Linked DNA regions of Homo sapiens: region 1 is linked to region 2. Evidence: fine-mapped expression QTL. A gene starts in region 2. The other region holds a variant in brackets. All regions are shown on one strand. Distances are from middle to middle.

What was found. PIP is the estimated chance that this variant, and not a neighbour inherited with it, causes the effect. A credible set is the group of variants that fine-mapping cannot tell apart.
Region 1: its variant is the best candidate, but not a certain one, in a credible set for the expression of IL18BP in whole blood (INTERVAL, PIP 0.59).

Annotation. Positions count from the first base shown.
Region 1 is chr11:72,060,110-72,063,017 of GRCh38, forward strand. The region is part of intron 2 of NUMA1 (nuclear mitotic apparatus protein 1); the gene reads right to left. Among named protein-coding and RNA genes, the nearest start is that of MIR3165, 11 kb to the right of the region's middle. The variant T/TTTTC (reference allele first, on the strand shown) is at 1,377.
Region 2 is chr11:71,997,615-72,000,522 of GRCh38, forward strand. IL18BP (interleukin 18 binding protein) reads left to right here and starts at 1,295. Exons shown (of 6, transcript NM_001039660.2): 1 at 1,295-1,405; 2 at 2,313-2,398; 3 at 2,737-2,908. The coding sequence starts at 2,371.

The DNA of each region.
Region 1 (2,908 bases), 62 kb after region 2:
CCATCAAAACTAGGCCTCTTTCTGTCAAGTGTAATTCCCCCTACCAGCAGCCAGCAAACTATGGCCTATAAGTTAGCAGCCCATATTTTGTAAATCAGGTTTTACTAAAACGTAGCCACGCCCATTCATTTAAGTATTGTCTATGGCTGCTTTTGTTCTCCAATGGCAGAGGTGAGTAGTTACAACCACATGGTCTGCAAAGCCTAAAATATTTACTACTGGGGTCTAAACAGAAACAATAACTTGCCTAAGCACAGTGACTCACACCTGTAATCCCAGTGCTTTGGGAGGCTGAAGGTGGTGGACTGCTTGCTGTTTGAGCCCAGGAGTTCGAGACCAACCTGGGCAACATGGCGAGATTCCATCTCTACAAAAATTAGAAAAATAGCCAGTTGTGGTGGCATGCACCTGTAATCCCAGATACTCAGGAGGCTGAGGTGGGAGGACTGCTTGAGCCTGGGAGGCCAAGGCCGTGGTGAACTGCCATTGTGCCACCACATTCCAGCCTGGAAGACAGAGTGAGACTCCATGTCGAAAAAACAAAACGCACACACACAAAAAAAACAAGAGTTAAAAACTAAAGAAAAGCTCAGGTCTGGGCACAGTGGCTCATGCCTGCAATCCCAGTACTTAGGAAGGCTTAGCGAGACCCCATCTCTACAAAAAATAAAAAAAATTAGGCTAGGCACGGTAGCCCACACCTGTAATCCCAGCATTTTGGGAGGCCGAGGCGGGCGGATCACGAGGTCAGGAGAATCGAGACTGTCCTGGCCAACATGGTGAAACCCCATCTCTACTAAAAATACAAAAATTAGCTGGCCGTGGTGGCGTGTGCCTGTAATCCCAGCTACTCAGGAGGCTGAGGCAGGAGATCACTTGAACCAAGGAGTTGGAGGCTGCAGTGAGCCGAGATCGTGCCACTGCACTCCAGCCTGGCGACAGAGCAAGACTGTCTAAAAAAATTTAAAAAATTAAAAATTAGCCAGGCACAGTGCTGTGTGCCTGTAGTTCCAGCTACTTGGGAGGCTGAGGCAGGAGGACCCCTTGAACCAAGGAGTTCGAGGTTGCAGTGAGCTATGATCACACCACGGCACTCCAAAATCTGGGTGATAGAGCAAGACCCTGTCTCAAAACAAAAAAAGAAAAGCTTCTCAGTGGGGATTAGTTATGGTCTAATTGGCCACAGCCAGAGCATGGCTATGTTACAGTGTGTGGCTCATTTTCAAATAACTTTATATGCAGTATAGGTCTGGTATATAATCCCAAAGGAAAGAGCCCAAAACACTCAAATGAAGTCAAAAGACTTATCTTTACTTATGGGTTGCAACACTAAAAGATTTTCTATGCACTACTCTTCGTCTTCCTTGTTTCTTTTC[T/TTTTC]TTTTTTTTTTTTTTTTTTTTTTGAGACAGAGCCTCATTCTGTTGCCCAGGCTGGAGTGCAGCGGTACAATCACAGTTTACCACAGCCTCAACCTCCCAGGCTCAAGCGATCCTCCTTCCTCAGACTCCTGAGTAGCTGGGACCACAGGCAGGTACCACCACACCTGGCTAATTTTTGTATTTTTTGTAGAGACAGGGCCTTGTCATGTTGCCTAAGCTCATCTCAAACTCCTGGGCTCAAGTAATCCTGCCTCTGCCTCCCAAAGTGCTGGGATTATAGGCATGAGCCACCATGCCTGGCCCCTTATTTAATTTCATCTGGTTCCTACTGTCCTTCAATGATTTTGACAATGTAGTTCCTACCCACACACCACAATAATACAAAACCAAAGCAAACTCCACTATGTCTGCTGCTAAACACCCCCAACAAACACACATACACATCACACCACACCACACAACACAACACAGGTGTCTCCTTCCCTTTTGCTAGCAGATTCGCTAGGAAGCAGCTGCACATTTCCAGCAAGTCGAACAAACTGCTGAGAGCTAGGGCCCCTGACCATTGTGGGAAAGGAAGGCCAATTCTCCCCTCTAGATTGTACCCTTCTGAAGATCCTGGCCATGAAAGAAGTCATTTCTCCAGAGAATTTTAAGCCATTCAGTTCCTATACGGCAGGCAGGAAAGGTGTCATCCTCCCCATATCATCAGTGGAGGAACTCAGTGTAACTTGTTTCATTTCCTCTTACTTCAAAAGGTCATTTTAAGTAATAGGGTCATTTAGGTAATATCAGTGATCTTTTTAATTTCTCCTCGCATTCTCTCCCAAATTTTGGTTTTACAAAATAATGGTTAAAAAAAAAAAGCTATCATACTCTCCACGAAATTTAACTTAATCTAGAATTTTGAATGAGAAATTAATAATCAAAGAACAGTGCATTTTAGGCCAGGCGCGGTGGCTCACTCCTGTAATCCCAGCACTTTGGGAGGCCAAGGCGAGCAGATCACCTGAGGTCAGGAGTTTGAGACCAGCCTGGCCAACATGGTGAAACCCCATCTCTACTTAAAATACAAAAAAGTAGCTGGGTGTGGTGGTACGCACCTGTAATCCCAGCTACTTGGGAGGCTGAGGCAGGAGAATCGCTTGAACCTGGGAGGTGGAGGTTGCAGTGAGCCGAGATCGTGCCATTGCACTCCAGACTGGGGGACAAGAGTGAGACTTCGTCTCAAAAAACAAACAAAGAACAGTGCATTTTCTTACACAAATAAGCAGGTATTAAGTGGTTCTCTGGATAGGAATTTGGCAATACAAATCAAAATTAATGCCTATAATCCTAGCACTTTGGGAGGCCAAGGTGGGCGGATCACCTGAGGTCAAGAGTTTGAAACCAGCCTGACCAACATGGAGAAACCCGTCTTAAAAAAATACAAAATTAGCTGGGCGTGGTGGCACATGCCTGTCATCCTAGCTACTCGGGAGGCTGAGGCAGGAGAATCACTTGAACCTGGAACAGGTGGAGGTTGCAGTGAG
Region 2 (2,908 bases):
TCTTCCCACCTCTTTCCCTGGGGTCCCCAGGGGTGTCTTGCCTTTGTTAACCCCCATCGGAGACCTGAGGGTCTGGGGGTGGTTGGGCCTGCCTTTCTGCTGTTCCCAGCTGTTCCCCTGCTGACATCCCTAGGAGTGGTGGAATGCCAGGCTCCTGTCCTGTGGCCTGGGGGCCTGGGGCATCATTGGGCCTGCCTTCAGACTGAGGTTGCTCTATGTTCTCACTGCCTGAGGACAGTGTCCCGCCACCACCTGCCTTCCTGAGGACCACACTCAGGCTCGGCTTCTCTTCCCCAGCTGTGGCTTCCCATGGTACCCTGCTGCTTATGCCACCTGTGGGGCTGTTCCCCTCCTCAGAGAGGGGAATGGGGCTGGTCAGAGGACCTAGGGATCACCCTTCCTTTTACTTTTTCCCCCCACCCCCCTGTCAGGCTCAGGTGAGAAGCCGAGGCCAGGCTGTCCAAAGCTCTTTTCATGTGTAACAGTTCTGAGTCCCTTGACCTCCCCCCTTGGCCTGACTCTGGTCTCGGTTCCACTAAGACAGAGTCCTGTCATCTTTCCCTACCATCCCCCACTGGACTGTCTCTCTCAGAAACCCCAGGCAGCCTTGCCTCCTGACCTAACTCCTGGAGATGCTGGTGTTCTTGGGAGGAATTTCTCCTGCATCTTACATGCTAGAAGCCCCTGGGGCAGGAGGTAGGGGGAGGAATTGAGAGGAGGAAAAACATGAACTAGACACCTAGAGAAGAAGGATGTGACTTGTAGTATCCTATGTCTAAATTAGGAATATGAATCTGGTTTTTCTACAAGAAGTTTGAGATCACAGCTGACTGTGTTCCTGATGCATCCACCAAACCCAGTTCCATCTGTGGGCCTCCCTGGCTCTGTCACCAGCCGTTGCACCCTCCCAATCACAGGAGTCACAAACCTCAGACATGCAGCTCCTGTCCACACTTAATATATGCATGCATTGGATCACCCAGCCCTGGTCTTTCTGCCTCCATGGATAACTGCATGACCCTGAGAGAAAACCTCCTTAGATTTAGCATCCTAGGTTCCTCACACGCCTCACCCTGAATCCTGGCCCTCCCGCAGCCCCAGCGCCATTTGTCCCATCAGTGACAAGATTCATATTCTGATGTAGACTCTGTTGCCAGAGCCAGTGTTGAGCCAGTCCGCCTCTTCCCCGGGAAGTGCCTGCCCTTCCCTCCTGTTAGGGTTGGCTCTCGAGCTTGTGTGCCAGTTCCTGGGTTGGCCGTGAGAGTTCTACAGACAAGGAGGAAGTGCTCTCGGTGTATTTCCTGTGGTGGGTTCACACGCAGCTAGACACAGCTAACTTGAGTCTTGGAGCTCCTAGAGGGAAGCTTCTGGAAAGGAAGGCTCTTCAGGACCTCTTAGGAGCCAGGTAGGAGTCTGGGACTACTAGTGAACCTAGACCTGTGGCTCTGGCCAGAGGGGCTAGGATGAGAGACAGAGGGTGTGATGGTGGGTGCTGGGAGATGTAGCCGACCTTGGGGCTGGTGGCTGGGGGAGTGGGTAGCCTGGGAAAGGCCAGGATGTGGACGGACTGGTATGGCATTGAGCCTGAAGTGGTCCAACTTGGGGTTCCCCAGTGCCTAGGAAAGTTGTCCCCTTGAATGTCAGTGTGAAGGTGAAGGAGGAAGCAGATGCCTGTTCATATGGAAACAAAGACCTGGCTGTGAAGAGGGGAGGCGGACACCAAAGTCCTGACACTTGGGCGGGACAGAATTGATCTGTGAGAGACTCATCTAGTTCATACCCTAGGTGACCCTGGGGGTGGCATGGGGGTAGATTAGAGATCCCAGTCTGGTATCCTCTGGAGAGTAGGAGTCCCAGGAGCTGAAGGTTTCTGGCCACTGAACTTTGGCTAAAGCAGAGGTGTCACAGCTGCTCAAGATTCCCTGGTTAAAAAGTGAAAGTGAAATAGAGGGTCGGGGCAGTGCTTTCCCAGAAGGATTGCTCGGCATCCTGCCCTTCCCAGAAGCAGCTCTGGTGCTGAAGAGAGCACTGCCTCCCTGTGTGACTGGGTGAGTCCATATTCTCTCTTTGGGTCTCAATTTTGCCTTCCCTAATGAAGGGGTAAGATTGGACTAGGTAAGCATCTTACAACCATTTGTGGTCATGAGAGCTGGGGTGGGGAAGGATTGTCACTTGACCCCCCCAGCTCTGTTTCTAAGTGCTGAAAGAGCTCCAGGCTATGCTACGGGAGGAGAAGCCAGCTACTGAGGAAAAGCCAGCTACTGAGAAAAAGCGGGAGTGGTTTACCATTCTCCTCCCCCACCTTTCACCAGAGAAGAGGACGTTGTCACAGATAAAGAGCCAGGCTCACCAGCTCCTGACGCATGCATCATGACCATGAGACACAACTGGACACCAGGTAGGCCTTGGGGCTACGCATGGGCAGGCGGGGTAGGGTGAGGTCTATGAACAGAATGGAGCAATGGGCTAACCCGGAGCCTTCACTCCAAGGCAAACCACCCAGCGCACCTGGTGCTGTTGCTTTAAGAACCTGGGCAGATATTGTAGCTCTGGCTCCAGTCTAAAGCTTCTCTGTACTCTGTTCAATAAAGGGCTAAGGGGTGGGTGCTGAGGGGTCCCTCTTCCCGCTCTGATTCCCTGGCTAGAACCCAGACATCTCTGGGCTGGAGTTACATCCTTACCCGGGCAGCCCACTCTGTCTCCAGAGCCGCTGACCTGTAACTGTCCTTTCCTCAGACCTCAGCCCTTTGTGGGTCCTGCTCCTGTGTGCCCACGTCGTCACTCTCCTGGTCAGAGCCACACCTGTCTCGCAGACCACCACAGCTGCCACTGCCTCAGTTAGAAGCACAAAGGACCCCTGCCCCTCCCAGCCCCCAGTGTTCCCAGCAGCTAAGCAGTGTCCAGCATT